Linked DNA regions of Homo sapiens: region 1 is linked to region 2. Evidence: fine-mapped expression QTL. Tissue or cell type: whole blood. Region 2 holds a variant in brackets; the other region holds the start of a gene. All regions are shown on one strand. Distances are from middle to middle. Region 1 holds the start of TRPC6 (transient receptor potential cation channel subfamily C member 6). Region 2 overlaps TRPC6 (transient receptor potential cation channel subfamily C member 6).

What was found. PIP is the estimated chance that this variant, and not a neighbour inherited with it, causes the effect.
Region 1: it holds the start of TRPC6, and the variant in region 2 is fine-mapped to the expression of TRPC6 in whole blood (TOPMed, PIP above 0.99).

The regions. Positions count from the first base shown.
Region 1 is chr11:101,580,102-101,588,448 of GRCh38, reverse strand. TRPC6 (transient receptor potential cation channel subfamily C member 6) reads left to right here and starts at 4,442. Exons shown (of 13, transcript NM_004621.6): 1 at 4,442-5,115. The coding sequence starts at 4,946.
Region 2 is chr11:101,524,145-101,532,491 of GRCh38, reverse strand. The region is part of intron 1 of TRPC6 (transient receptor potential cation channel subfamily C member 6); the gene reads left to right. Among named protein-coding and RNA genes, the nearest start is that of MIR3920, 8.4 kb to the right of the region's middle. The variant G/A (reference allele first, on the strand shown) is at 4,773.

The DNA of each region.
Region 1 (8,347 bases), 56 kb before region 2:
TTTCTTAAATTAATGGAAACATCTCTGGTGTTTCTCCATGTTGTTTTTATCTAAAATAGTTTTCTCTGCCATGTTAAAAATGTGTCTGTTACTCTTAGTTTTCTAAGCTTTTTCTTATTTCCTTTTAAAAAATGAAGAATAGATATTTTATTAACTTTTTGGATCCATGGAGATGATGATTAGTTTTTGAATTTTAGATTTTTTCTTACAGGATCTTAGTGTTCACTTAATTTTCCATAAGTATATTAATTTTCCTTGTAGTATACGTGGAAAATTGAGGTCCAGGTTGTATTTGAACATGTCCAGTGAAAGAAAACAAAAACAAAAACAAAACAAAACAAAAACCAGCAAAAACAAGCCAAAACAAAAAACCAAAAGCAGCTCAGTCCATTCTTGGTATGTCTTCATTTACTAAACTTGGGTGACATTGATGTATAAATCAACAATCTTTTCAATCGTCTTCTAACTATTTATGAATCACTCCTTTGTTACCCAGTTCTTATTTTTCAATCGTGCTGTCAAACATATCACACGATGCTCTTGGTAAACAGTTTACTAAAAATGTCCCAATAATTCCATCAAAAGAGATATTAACATAACTTGTTCTCTAAGTGAAACCATATTAATCACAAGTGCTTACAAAATAACCATATGATAATGTTAGAATTTTGGACAACATCTATGTCAAGCTCAAATTAGAGCAAAAATGAAATTAGCAATCTGTAGATTCTTCTATTTGTTTCTGATGGTTAATAACATTTTAGCTGCAAGACAGATACTAAATGTAAAGTATTATAACCCCTTTATTTTAAAAATTAAGAAATTGAGGTTCAAAGATATAGCAGCACCTGCTCAGATTTTACTCAAACTGGAGTTTGCAGGGCACTTTCATTCATAGAGAATCAGCAGCCCCTCTGAAGCTTCTGAAGTGTTTCTGTTTTCACCCGGTTGATTCTACATGTGATAGGAGTCAGGGCTCAGGGTTTCCATGCTTTAAAATATCCAGATGAAATCACGACTAAACTTTTATCTGTACTTCTGGCCAACCAACCCCAAACTGCATTTTCCAGAGAGACTCCTATGTTAGTGGTTTTCCATCAGCAACAGCAACTCACAAACTGCAGCTTTGTGTAACTTTTGAGCTTCTTGAGTTATTAAGCATTTAATGTTTTCTCAACCTTTTGCTTCTAGTGGCAATTTCTTTTCCTTTCCCTTTGGGCTCCTTGCCTGAGACTTCCTAGAGCAGCGGTTCCCAACCCCCAGGCTATGGACTGCTATCCATCTGTGGCCTATTAGGATCTGGGCCACACAGCAGGAGGTGAGCAGTGGGCAAGCCAGCGAAGCTTCACCTGTATTTAGTATTTACAGCTTTTTCCCATCACTTGCGTTACCGCCTGAGCTTTGCCTCCTGTGAGATCAGCGGAGGCATGAGATTCTCCTAGGAGCATGAACCCTATTGTGAACTGTGCATGTGAGCAATCTAGGTTGTGTGCTCCTTGTAAGAATCTAATGCCTGATGATCTGTCACTGTCTCCCATCACCCCCAGATGGGACCATCTAGTTGCAGGAAAACAAGCTCAGGGATCCTATCAAGTCTACATTATGGTAAGTTGTATAATTATTTCATTATATATAAAACAATGTAATTATAATAGAAATAAAGTGCACAATAAATTTAATGTACTTAAATAGTCTCCAAACCATCCATCCCACCCCACAGGTCCGTGGAAAAATTGTCTTCCACGAAACTAGTCCCTGGTGCCAAAAAAGTTGGGGACCACTGTTCTAGAGGACAACCATTTTTCTTTACTCATTTTTCTCCTATCAGCTTTTCAAAACACTGTGTTATATATATATTATATGTATAATATATATACACATTATATATATTACACACATGTATATATGTAAAATATCTGTTTTTGTAAAATCAAACTAATAATCAAACAGTGCAGATATATATAATGAGGCAAAGGTCCTCTCTCATTAACATCTCTTCCTCTGCCCACAGAGACACATAACTCACCTTCATCCTCACATCTCAGAATTAATGACTGAGTGTTTTTTTATTTCAATAGCATGAACATACTACATAAACATACATAACCTATAATTGCATAGCAATTTCCAACTCTGTGAGAACTATCAGTCCTGTGCTCACCCAACAATTTTTTAACTTTAAAAACTATTGTTTCTTTGTTCACTCAGCTTTCTTCATGACTCCAGATCTACTCAATACTTCCATAGTTGATTCAAAAATTATATTATTTAATCGTATTTTGTCTTTTTAAAAATTGGTTTCACCATGTTTTTAATGTAAAGTGATAAAACTGCATAGATAACTATATAATGTGGGAAGTTAGAGATTGAGGCGTAATTGTATACCAGCTTACTGATGAAAAAACTGAGGCAGAGAGAGATTTAATGACCTCTCTGAAATCATGTAACTTCAGTTAGGGAAGTGGCCGAAATAAAAATCCAGGCTTTGAGACTTCTGATCTAATGATTCCACTTCATCATGTCATAAGCTCTTTCAGAATCTTCTAACATTTGTACACCACCTTATTCCTTCTGGGTACTCAATAAATGACTGGGCTTGTTGTTCTAGTACTCACAATAATTCAAAAAAAAAAAAAAAAACAGAGGAAAACATGTCTTACCACATGATAAATTGATGTCAGAATAAGTTTACTGTAGTAATTTTTTCAGTGTGAAGGTTGTTACCTGTGAATGAAAAACAGTGTAACAACAGCAAAATAAATTCTGTCTCAGTTTTTGTTTTTTTTCTTTTTATGTGAAAGGTTAACACTTCAACTGACACTACAAATGTTTATTAATTTGGCTTTAACTCACAGAATTTGAATTGGGTAGAAAACCTTTGAATATTACTTTTCCCATGAATGTTTTCCCCATACTTGGTGTTGCCAAAGAGATTACCTTGGCACTGTTTAACTAAACGTTTATTGATTAATTCATTCAAGCATCAAAGCTAATGAATACTTACAGATAGCAGTTGCCACAAACAAATTTTAGGAAGAATATCTTATTGCTAGGTATAGTAACTAGAAAATTATAAGAATTTTAAATCATGGCTCCACATGTTGAAAGATCAAAAAGGAAGGCTGTTAAATCAGAAAGAACAGACTTCAGAATGATGCAGGTTGTTTGTTTCCCCAGGGAAAATGTTCTTTCCAGGGCCAAGAGCATTTTCTTATTTTTTCTATATTCCTTCCATCCATCCATCCATCCATCCGTCCATCCATCCATCCATCCACCCACCCACCCACTCACCCACCCAAGCATGCATGCATGCACCCTACACACCTGTGTCAAATACGAAGCTGGATCCTCAGGACACAGTGGTTTCTGCTCTCTCTGAGTTTCAGTTCTAAATTTAAAGGCAAACTCAGAAGTTTCTAAATGTGTGAGCTCTTTTCCCTTCTATCAAATCAATTGCATTTTCCCACACTTCCAACATTCATTTTGTTGTCCACCTGTTCATGGGAAGCAAAGGCACCTTTGCAGACAGATTTCAGTCTGGCTTTCTTTCATCCAATTGCAATGGGCCTCTGATCTTTTCATGGCTGGCTGCTTGCCATGCATGTCTCAACTTAACGAGCACCTCCTTGGAGGGGCCTCTTTTAACCATCTCATCTGAAGTAGTCATTCACCAGCTGCCATCACATCAACCTGTTTTATTTTCATTGTAGCATTTGTCCTTGATATTTTTTCATTTGCTTATTTAATTGGTCCCCCTTTCTGCCACGAAAGCTCTATGAGGGCAGACAGGTGCCTCATCTGCTTCTTTGCCTCCGAATTCTGAAATGATTTGAAACGCAGTTGGCATTCATTAAATATTTGTTGACTTAATGAATGGATTCTTAATTGGCTACTACTGCTTAAAGGTCTACAAATACTGATTCATCCTTGTTGACAAGTTTTTACTTCTCACACGTATGCATATTAATCAGAATTTAAAACTAAGTCTTAAAAATAAAACAGCTTGGAAACGTGGGAAACATCTGGCAGAGAAATCATTCTTGCATTCGCAGTGACGGAAGGAAAATTTTTTCTCTGAAGTAAGCAGGTTGTTGGCCTCTTTATCGGTATCATTGGAAAATGCTTGCCTATTTTTGTTGGTTTTCTCAGGAACTGGGAACATCTGGCGTTTGGAACATAGAACGTTGTTCATTTTTAAAGCAGAGTCATAATAACTTTATGAGTTGAGGGTAAGAGAGAAAATGACCAAAGAAAATGAAGGCAGTCTGGAGAAAGAAGAGGCTCGTGTCCCTTTTAAGGAACAGGTTTCCTTGGCTCTTTGAGAGTGGTTCTTAAAGGAAGCTTCCTACGAAGTCCGCAGTTGGTATCCTTACTAAATGAGCCAACTAAATAGTGGAGGGGAAAAAAAGAGTGCGTGCCTGGCTCCTCCTAGTTCAGGCTCATACCGCCTCCTGAAAGTTGTGGCTACAGGACAGGCTTTGGCTGCTTTCTAGAACGTCGCTCGGATCCCTTTAAAGGTGGGGATCTTGACGGAGAGTGCGGGGGATGAAGGCGGGAGCTGAGGGCTGGAGAGTCTCTGTTGACATAGTAACTCTTCAGCTCCGTCTCCCTTGCTCTCCGCTCTTACGCTTCGCTACCACCAGCGGCCCCGCCTGTGCCCTCTCTGCCCGGGCGCCCCAGACGCATCCTCGCGGGGTCTCCTCGGCCTGACCTGCTCAGGTCAAGATCCTCTTTGCACCCCCTTAAGTGGTGACTTTTCCCCGGGCCAGTGGGCGAGCCACTTGCGGCGGGCGTCTGCACCCCCTGCTTCACCGTCGTCCCCTGGGCACCGGTCTGCCCAGGTCCAGTTCGGCCGCTGACGCGAACCCTCCGCACCGGGTCCCCGCTGGAACTGCCCACTCGGCTCCCCCGGGAGCGGGGCCCAGGCCAGTCGGGCGTTCCCGCCATGAGCCAGAGCCCGGCGTTCGGGCCCCGGAGGGGCAGTTCTCCCCGGGGCGCTGCCGGAGCCGCTGCGCGGCGCAACGAGAGCCAGGACTATCTGCTCATGGACTCGGAGCTGGGAGAAGACGGCTGCCCGCAAGCCCCGCTGCCTTGCTACGGCTACTACCCCTGCTTGTGAGTGCCGGCGACGCGGGGCGGATCGGGCGCGGGCTGCGCGGAGGGAGGTTGTGCGCTCGCAGGAGTGGCCGAGTCCGTCCGCGCGCGTCCTGAACCCGCGTGTGTACCTCCTAGGACGGTGCTGGGAGGTCCGCGAGAGCCAGGGCTGGGACCTGAGTGAGTGGAGGGGCGCGCGGGGAGTGGGGGAGGCGGGGTTGTCTAGGTTTGCTCCTCGTAGGTACGCATGGATATGTTTGCCCACGAGAGTGAGACCGCATAGTAACACCACCATTGCAGGTGATTAGATGGGTGGTCGATTTCTCCAGACCCCTTCATCCTGCGCTCTACAAGAGACAGGATCGCTACGTAACAGGCGGGATCTGAACAGGGGGCTGATTCAGATGTGCGCCCGGGTGACTCTTAGCCTATGTGGGGGAGAGATGACTAGAACTCCAAGGGTTGGAGCTGCCTGGGTGCTGGGTGCGCCCGGCGGTCTCCACGCTTGGCTTAGCGTTTCGGGCTGAGCGCTGAGGTCCTTGGACCGTGGGACAGCCAAAGTTAGACCAGGACCTCTCCCCGGTCCTGGGGCCTTGGAGTGAAGACAGAAATAGAACCAATAGGACTCTCCACCGGCGGCGCGAACCTTTTCACCCGGGGCGTCTGGGGAGACGAGCCTGTTAGGGGCTGGGAGACTCACGGGCTATAGAAGTGAGGGCGTCGGGTCGTTTGTATTGGGCTGTGGGTAACTGCAAGCTTTTGTTTATGAATCTAGGGTATTTTTTTTTTTAGCTGGGTGGGTGGCGGGAGGGGAGGTAGGGAGTAAGCAGAGTGGACTCCAGAAGAAAAGACTCCGCTTCCCCGACACCGCTGTGACCACATGTGCAGCGGGCAGATAGCATTTCTGTCCCATTGCCCCTTTGGGTGATTGGGTAGTCAAGTTTCCTGACTTGTCACATCCACCCGCAAGCGGTTTCCCGAGGTTCTCAGCTCTATAAACAGCTTTAGTTGGAGGGAGGATTCCACCCCATAGGCGCCTGGCAGACCCTCCTGATAGATGGGTGCTGTGTCAGGGCTGCCCAGCCTCAAGCCCTGCTGCGGTGCCCTTTCGAAGTAAGAGGTGAGCCGCAGTAAAGGGAGCATCTAACTTTTCTCAAAGATAAAGGAGAATAGTTAGAACTGGTTTCATTCATCTGTGTGCTGTGCAAGTTAAGAGCATTTACAATTATGTATATGTTTTTCTTTTTAAAAGTTCAAGACATAATTCCCATACCACGTAATTCCCCCATTTAACTTGTACAATGCACTATTTTTAATATATCCATAAAGTTGTACAGCCACCACTAATATCTAATTCCAGGACAATTTCATCATCCCTCAAAGAAATCTTACACTTGATGTGTTAAATTAGAAGATATTTTTATGTCTCATAGTACAGACTTTTCCAACTTTAATGGCTAGCATGCAAATCATGTGGAAATCTTGTTAGAATGCAGATTTTGAGAAGGCAGGTCTTAGGTACAGCCCAAGATTCTCCATTTCTGACATCCCTCAGATGATGACAAGGTTGCTAGTCCGTGGACCACCCTCTGAATAGCAAGGTGATATATGACAAGAAAAAACAAGAATAGAAAGAAAAATAAATAAATCTTGGATATTCTGAAATGCTGCTATTTTAAAATGTACTTTGAAGGTGTAAGTTTAAGACATAGATGGAATTTTTATTGGTTAAACTTGAGATCTCCGATGTCTGAGGGTTATAGGTTTGGCAACATTACCTCCTGGCTAAACTAGGTGACTAAAAATTTATACGGCTTTTTAAAAATTAGACTGTTCCATGAACAAAACCTTTTTTCATTCTGTAATCCATATAATCACTTGTCGCTGTGTCTGTCAAAAAATGATTTGATTAAAAACCTTGTGGTTATATATCAGTAGTGAGAGAGACTAAATAAAGTAATAATTCCAAGTTGTCCTGAAAACTCTTCCCAGTGCTTTCTTCAAATGTGGCTTACTGCCTAATTTGTCTAATTATTGTTATTACATTTTTTAGCTACAAGTTCTCACTATGTTACCCAGGCTGTCCTCAACATGCAGTATTTAGTGAATATTCCCTTAGTTCAAGAATCCTGGACTATTCTTAATAAATAGAACTGAGCAGCAGAGTGATGAACAGAAATATTTTAATGTGCTTCAATTCATAACATCCACCCTCTGCGTGATGTCAGAGGTACTATAATACATGTAAGAGTGAGCCATGCTCTAGAATTTGGGTTTGGTTTTATATGAATCTATTATTTCCAAAAGGTTCTATAGTTACATTTCATCCACTGTTTTCTCTGACAAGATTTTAAGTTTTTCTAGTTGAATAATCAACTAACAGAAAAATTTTAACCAAGAAACAAAAGTACTTCACACCTATGATGTATGAGAAAGAGCTAAAGAAAATTACTCCCTCTGGTAGAGTAGAAATCAACTCTTCCATATGCTTTTGACTTGTGATTTATACAATTTCATAGTGGGAGGTGTATCATTTCTGAAAGTGGCAATCACTAGTACATTTTAGATATGAATATTGCCATTTCTCAAATCATTGAGATTTTCCCTTATAAGATCCCAAGTCTTTGTAAGTTGTCATTTCTGTGGAATAAATTCTATGACTCTTGCCAAAAATTTCTGTTTCATAGTTTTCTTATTTAGAAAAATTTTTTACATATATTTATGGGGCTTCAGTAGTAATGGGGCTTCAGTAGTAATGGGGCTTCAGTTTTTATTTATATTTATGGGGCTTCAGTTTTCAGTAGTAAAACTGAAAATTATGGTAAATTATCTTATTTGTGAGCAATTATGTGCAATAAGGCCTTAATAGTTAAATAAGGCCTTAATAGTTAAAATAGTAATAAATTGAAATGGTGTTCAGAAGAAAATGGCTCAGATTTTCTCTTTATTCAACTTTCAATAGCAAATCAATTAATATTCTCTATTGTGATCAATTTGTAATGGTGATTAGCAAGAAAGGCCCATGTCCTGCCAAGGTCCCAGGAGGCATTTCAGATTTCCTTTATTTAGAACTTTAAAGGTATGTTTACAGTTCATCACTGCTGAACTTGGGGAAGAATCCCAGACATTTAAAAAAGTTAAGCATTTCTAAAATCTCAGGATCTGAAAACACAGTCCAACTAAACTTTCTGCTTGGGAAGGAGTAATTGATTGATTATGAATAATGAAACAGTAAACTGTAAACTAAAGCACT
Region 2 (8,347 bases):
CCTAGGCTAGGACTCAAAATCCTGGCAAATCATTTTTATTCCTGGATGCTTTTAGGAAAAGAATAAGATCTATCTCAAACTCAGGTTAGCTTCAATAATTTATAAAACAAAGTAAGATTTCCTCAAAGGTGGAGTGAGGCAGGCTTTAGGACACCAGATATGCATTTTATCTGGTTTCCAATTTTCTAAATAGCTGAACCAAATTCCACCTTGAAGGTGTGATTAAAGCCATAGCTTCAATGAGAAGATTTAGGTTTTGGATTTTTGCACTTATATAATTTTAGGGACCTTTGCTACAGTCTCTCCCAAGACTTGGAAAGAGACCTGTACCATTGAGATACTCTGAAGATTGAGTTACTTAGCTTCAGGATACATGTGCCCTTGGGTTCAACTGTACAATGTTGTTGCTTGATCTAAACCCTGGACTTGCTTTTGCTTCAGCACCATGAGTGATCTCATTTTGGTCCCTGTCCATCTAACTGTGCCTCTGCCTCAGGACACTTCTTGCCATGCCTGGAAACTGCTGAGCCGACACCTTCCCAAGTCTCCTTAACCAGCAATCTCTGCTATGGCTAAAACAGGCAGATAGGAGAGGGAGAGAATGCTTAGGGCGGTTCTACAATAAACCAGGAATGGGCTTTTGAACCTCAGTGGAGCAGAAAGAACGGGGAGAAGAGAGAATGAACTCGATTGGTTATAGAAGATACAAAAAAATGTAATATATAATGTCAATACTAACTGGAAGTGGGAACAATGGATGTGGAAAATTTGCTGATTTGGGCCTTGCATATTTAGATTGGGTGAAAATATGGTAGGCAGTAAAATAGTATTAAATACAAAACGCCTCAAATTGTGCCTGCTTCATTCATCCTATTCATAAGATTTGGGAAGAGTAATTAGCAAATAATCTTTCAGTAAAATCAGATATTCCCAGAATCAAGATTGTGAGTCAAATTCTTTTTTAGAATAAATGTTATGCATGATGTTCATATGTACTAATACAGTCTTTCCTATCTAGAAAAAGCAATACTGAATGCCTACCAAGATAAAAGGCAATGCATTTGCAAGGTTTAGGATGCAGACTTTGGGTCCAGACTTCCTGGGGTCAAGTCTCTGTTCCACCAGTAAGCAGCTATGCTACCAAGACAAAGTTATTTATACTCTTGTTCTTCAGTCTTCCCACTTGTAAAGTGCTGGTACTAATATCATGTACCTCATAGAGTTCTTATGGGGATTGAGTTTTTTCCCAGATTTATTAGGGTGTAATTGACAAAAATTGTATATATTCAAGGTATACGACATGATGATTTGATGTATGTATGCACTGGGTAATGATCATCACAATCAAAGTAATCAACACATCCATCACCACACATTGTTACCGGTGTGTGTGTATGTGTGTGTATGCATTAAGCAACATTAGGTTACTCTGTTAGCAAAGTTCAAGTCAACAATACAGTATTATTTACTATAGTCACCATGATGTACATTAGCTTCCCAAACTGAAAGTTTGTACCCTTTGACCAACACCTCCCCATATCCCCCACCCCCAGGCCCTGGCAATGCTATGTGTTTGACTTTCCAAGATTCTACATTATAAGTGAGATAATAAATTTGTCATTCTGTTTGGTTCTTTTTTATGATTTCTATTTATTTATTAAATATCTTATTTTGTGGATGCATTGGTTTTCTGCTTTTGTTGGGTCCCAGGGCTGATGGGATTGCCTCCAGATCACAGTTCGTGGTTGGCAGGCCTGTTACCAGGGGCTCGAGCTGGCGTGAATATTGTTTGGTCCCTGGGCAGACTGGACTTCCAGGATCTTGGTCAGTAGGGCTGGTACTGGTACAAGGGTCCACTTCAAGGTCTGCAGAAAATGGGCCTGTTACCAGGTCTGTAGACAGGTGTGGCTTCTTCTTGGTTCCTGGGAAGGGTCACTTGGTGGGACCCTGGGTGGGCAAGACTGGCCCCAGACTGCAGATAAGAGGAGCTAGAACTGAGTTACAGGGCTGCTTCAGGGTCTACAGCCCAGCCTCATGTCTCAGACCTGCCTCTGGAGGCACAGATGGGCGTATCTCCTGCCAGGTTCCTGGACAGGCAGAACTGATCACGGATCACAATTGAAGGGCACTGGAGACAAATTTCTGAGCTGTCGTAGGATCTGCTGTGGGATGGAGTTCAGCAAGCCTGCTTCCCAGGGTACATACAGTGTGACTCCTGGCAGGTTCCTGGGTGGGCAGGACTGCATTCAGACTGCAGTTTATAGGGGCTAGAGCCAAGTTAGAGCTTTTTCAGGGTCTGCTATGGGACTGAGGGTAGCAAGCCTACTTCCCAGGGCACAGATGGGTGTGTCTCCCAGCAGGTCTCTGGGCAGGCATGATTGGTCTCAGACTAGATGAGGGGCTAGAGCTGAGTTACAGGGGTACTTCAGCGTCTGCTGCCAGGCCTGTGGGTGGTGGACCTGTCACTTTAGGCATGGGTGAGCATGACTCCTCCTTGGAGGATGGTTCTGGTGGCAGGACCAAGGTGAAACAGGATTGTAGCTGGGTCCACAGGGGATGCGTTCATTTTTGATCAATGGCTTACTCCATAGTCAGCAAAATTGCCACCCAAGTGTGGGCCTGCCCTATTAAAATGAGCCTCCTTGGTTTTGGCCTATACCAGAATTTTAACATCTGCTCCCTAGATCCCAAAGCTCCCACTGAGGCACTTCTATCAGTGGATGGCTGCCAAATGCTTCTTGCTGTGTGGGTATATGAGCAGGGGGCCTCCTATTCCATTATCCTGCCAACTGTGATTGACTTATTATTTATAAAAACATGTTTAAAATTGTACCTGGCCTGTACATAGGAAGCAGTATCTGTATTTCATAAATAAGTGCATTTTTTAAGGTCCCCCCTAATTCCAAGATTATCAAATTCTGTAGGACGATCTATTCTAGCCAGGCTTTAGCATTGGTTTACTGTGCATTCAGATGATTCTGCATTAAAACAAACAATTTTGAAGTACTATGTATGTCCGAAGTCCTAGTTAAAGGGCAAGAGATCACTCAGTGCACGCTCGTGCTTTTATCTAGGCAATTTAATTCTTTTTATGAAGCAGCAGCATCTCCTGTTTCCCTTAGGGGAGTGTTCCAAAGGCAGGAGCTTTCATTGCCAAGATGCTGCCCTGATATTTAGCCTAGACTCTGATTTCTTCTATGTCTCACCATCCCTCCTAGTTAATCGACTATATATGCATTATCCTACTCCCATCCTCAGGAGCAGATATTGGGCAGTGAACTCCCTTCATCCTTTCTGATCTTTCTAGGCTTTTAGTGAAGTTTGAAGCTTTTCTGAACTGTTTGATCTGTGAACCCCTGTGTCACAAAATGAAGTCTTGTGGATCCAGAAGTCTTTATTTAAAGTATGTGGGAATTCCTTAGAAAACACACTTAGTATTTCTTACTTTCAACTCACATTCAGTTCATGAGTTGTTCAAAGGAGAAAAATGGTGTCTATCCACTGTTCATGTCTCCTGCTTGCTAATGTGGCTGTGCATTCATTAGTTGGAATTTTCCAGAATATATGGCTTGGGAAGAATCATTAATATTTTCATGATTCCAGATGCCGATTGGCCTGTAGTATTTTTTACAGATTATTTCTTCATACGCATTCTTAAGTCAACTTAGCCTTCCAGAAAACATCTAAGAATCTTTCAGTCTGTTGAAATTCCATTTGGCCCAATGAATTTTTATTGGTGCAATTAATTCTTACCTCATACTGCTAAGCATGTTTATGTTTTTCAGATATGCACAGGCTAAGAAAGTACCACATGGCAAAGGTGATGGTCCTGCATCTGCACAGATTTCTATAAGAGAAAGCAGACTACACATAAGAGTTAGTACAAGCAATAATACAATAGTAATATACACATTTATTGAGTGCATATTATGTGCAACTCTATATAATGTGTTGCCTCATGTAATATAGATGCCAATAACCCTCTAAAGTAATATCTGTTTAAAGATAATTTTAAGTATTTCATAATAGATCATATCAAAAAATAAGATCATATTGTATATATTAAGCTTTGTGCAGTGACAGTGCCAATGAGGTTTGCAATGTGTAGGCAATGAGGTTTATCCAAGGCACAATATTGCTGATTGAAAACTCTTCCCGTATTGCATATACCACCTTATGATCTACTTTGTTTTTCCAGGTCCAATGTGGCAGACAATTTTCCATGTCAGTATCTTAAGTTCTAATGATTAGATAATACTCCACTAATCTGACTTTTACCTTTCCTATTACACATTCTTTAAGATAGTAAAGAATATGTAAATTTAACATAGATTTATTTATTCATATTGATAGACATAAATCTGTTTATAGATATGGATATACAGATAGACATAGACAAATATATATATATATTTTTTTGAGATGGAGTCTCACTCTGTCACCTAGGCTGGAGTGCAGTGGCACGATCTCGGCTCATTGCAACCTCTGCCTCCCGGGTTCAAGCGATTCTCCTGCCTCAGCCTCCTGAGTAGCTGGGATTACAGGTGCCCGTCACTATGCCCAGCTAATTTTTTTAATTTTTAGTAGAGACAGGGTTACACCATGTTGGCCAGGCTGGTCTCTAACTCCTGACCTCATGATTCGCCCACCTTGGCCTCCCAAAGTGCTGGGATTACAGGTGTGAGCCACTGTGCCTGGCTGACAAAAATATTTTACACTCCATCACATTCCAGAAAATGTTTGTACTATCATGAATTTTATCAGAACTATAG[G/A]AAAAAAAATCAATTATTTAGTTGCTTTATTTTAAAATGTCTTTCTGCAAATAACTTTATAAAGTTGATTAGCAAAATTCAAATTTTATACCATTGTTTTTATAAAGCCTTCAAAATGTCCATGAAAAGAATTAAATAACATGCATGTGTGCACACCACCCCCCAACCACACACACTTCACAAATGCCTATAATCTCCTGTTAACCTAGGATACGGTATTGGAACTGTGTCATCAAAAATGTAAATTTTGAAATCCGTATTTCCTTGAATGTTATGTAAGAACACTTACTAGCCCAGTCAAATCATTATGGGCATAAAATGATCAAGCAAAAGACTTGCTTCATTAAATTATTAAGTGTCCTAGAGGTTTGTATTATAATTAAATATAGTGATTTCAAGTATTGTTTTTCAAGCTTCAGAGTAATTAGTGAAAACATAAACATATTTAATCAAGACTTGGAGGCAGTAATTCAACAGAGCCTTGTCAAACCAAGAAACCCTATTTGGTATTTAACAGGGTGTATACATTTCAGAGGTAAATAATATATTGCAGTAAATGATAAAAAAATAGAAATTTTATTCCTGAATAAATAATTAAAATTGTTCATATTGCCAGCATGTTTTTCTTCTCCAGTGTTAGTAGTGTGCTTTATAAAATAGTACACAGCCTTGCAGCTATATAATATTTTTTGAAATTGTAGTCTTGTTAATTCATTAAACATTTATGTATACAGTGAATAGTATTGCTCACTGGAAACATGACTGGATCAGATATACTTTAAAAATACATTTTCTATTGTCCAGGAACTAAGACTATTTAATTTTTTTTTTTTTTTTTTTTTTTTTTTTTTTTTTTTTGAGACAGTCTCCTTCTGTCACCCAGGCTGGAGTGCACTGGCGCAATCTCAGCTCACTGCAAGCTCCGCCTCCCGGGTTGACGAGATTCTCCTGCCTCAGCCTCCCGAGTAGCTGGGATTACAGGCACCCGCCACCACGCCCAGCTAATTTTTTGTGTATTTTTAGTAGAGACGGGGTTTCACTGTGTTGGCCACACTGGTCTCACACTCCTGACCTCGTGATCTGCCTGCCTCGGCCTCCCAAAGTGCTGGGATTACAGGTGTGAGCCACTGTGCCCAGCCAAGACTATTTAATTAAATCATCTTCTGATGTTCAGAAAATTCTGGAAAGGATTTATATACACAAATAAAGAGAAAGTTTAGGAATAACACATCTGAAAAGATTCACTCAGTAAGAAAACAACTATACTTATTGATCTTGACTTTAAAAGAAGGAAGAGAAACTAAACTATGCCAAAATTTATTTTTTTAAGTTCAAAGCATGTATCTTATAGAAAAGTTTCTGAGGTCAGAAAATGTGCCATATTTAACTTAATGTTCAGCATGTAATACCATTTCGCATGGATATCGACACTGAGAGTTTCTGTAAGAATAACAGTGGTCTTCTCTCTACTGGAGGAAACAGTTCCATTCATTAGAGGGGTCTGCATCATGCCTATGAGTGGTCATTGTTAAAAAGAGAAGGACAAAGAGAGAGAGAGAGATTCATATTTATACCCTTTCATTAATGTACATATATGCAACTCTTCAGGTGCCAGAAATTGCATGAGGGACTGGAAACAAGACACATCTCTTGCCCTCTTGGAATCTGTTTTACCGTGTAATTAAAATATACTGTGATAAGCACTCTGCAATGAGGGCTATGAGTACAAAGGACTGTGGATCCCAAAGAAAAGGAGCTGCCCCGCCCATCCTATGGAATCAGGGAAGGTTTTCCTGATGTGTTCTCTTAGTTCCTGCTGGCGATGCCTCCTTTAGGCCACCACTGTGGCTTGTAGCCATAGTCTCTTGCCTGGTCATCCTGCTTCCTGACCCTGATCCTCTCAACTTCAAATATGATTTAGAAGTTTTCAGTGTCTCCACATTATGCTCAGGATAAAGTACAAACATTGCATCATAACTCAAAAGTTTCTTCATGACTGGCTGCCCTTTCCCTCCATCTTAATCTCTAGCTACCCTGTTGTACTTGACTGTCAAAGTGTATCAAAATACTTTGAGTTCCAAAAACGTGTTACGTTCTCTCTTAACTTCTGCCTTTTGTTCATGCACTCCCAAGTTCTAGAATAGTCTCTTTCCTCTTACTGAACATTTACCTGGCTAATTCATACTCATCCTGTAGGTCTCAGTTTGTATCTGTTCATCCAAGCCAGAACTATGAGTGTTGTCCTAGTCTCTTCCCTTTACTTCCTCCTTTCCATTCAATTCATCACCATGTCCTGAAAATTCTAAGACTAAGCATCTTTGCTGTCGGTTATTTTTAAATTTCTCCTACTTATTACAATAAAACCACACAGTTGGTATTTATGTTCCTCTTTTACAGGTGGTGAAACTGAAGCTAAGAGATATTAAGTTAGTCACTCAAGATCACACTCTTAATAACTCATAAGCTAGGATTCGAGCCAAAGTCCATTTGACTCCAAAGCCAAAATGCTCTACCACCTTGCCTTTCCATTGCCAGAGATATGCTAATGACCATTACATGCTTGTTCCAAAACAATAGTACTTTGATACTTTTCATTTTGTTTAATTGTTTCTTCCATGGTTATGAAAAAATCAGTGGCTAATGTAACTGGCACCAGACTTTTAAACATATTCATCTCTTCAACAATTCCTTTAAGATTTCTACTTAACGCAAAGGCTATTTTAAGTGAGGCAATGAGACTTGATTGATTGTTGCTACTTTATTTCTAAGGCATAGAAATGGAGAAATAGTTGGAAAGTGAATTGAAGCAGCATTACATTTTGTATCAAGGAAAAATGTATTATTTATAAAGTATTGCAGGCACACTGTAGGAAATTCATAAAATAATGACACAAAACAAGTGAAAGATAAAATCACCTGTACTTATTCCTTCCATGGATAACACTGCATCAAATTTTGCTGTCTATTTTTCTTAAATGAAGTCTATGTATCATATTGTATACAAACATATCATACCACCTACTACCTACTACTCACTGTTTTGATAAATGGGGAATATTGACATGGAAAAAACAGAGTGCTGAAATCAAAGTTCTTGCAGCATGGTAGAATTATATTTAACGGTAGAATTACATTTGTGATTTAAATACATTTAAATTTAAGGGATAAAAATGGCCTGGGCCGGGCACAGTGGCTCATGCCTGTACACTTTGGGAGGCCGAGATGGGTGGATCACGAGGTCATGAGATCGAGACCATCCTGGCTAACATGGTGAAACCCCGTCTCTACTAAAAATACCAAAAAATTAGCTGGGCATGGTGGCAGGCGCCTGTAGTCCCAGCTACTCGGGAGGCTGAGGCAGTAGAATGGCGTGAACCTGGGTGGTGGAGCTTGCAGTGAGCCGAGATCGTGCCACTGCACTCCAGCCTGGGTGACAGAGTGAGACTATGTCTAAAAAATAAAAAATAAAAAAATGGCCTGATTGAGACTGAAGCCACTGCGTCTCCATTTGTTGGTAAATTCACTTAAGGGACCTTGATCAACCTATAATCCCAAATTTGAAAATGGAAGGCTGT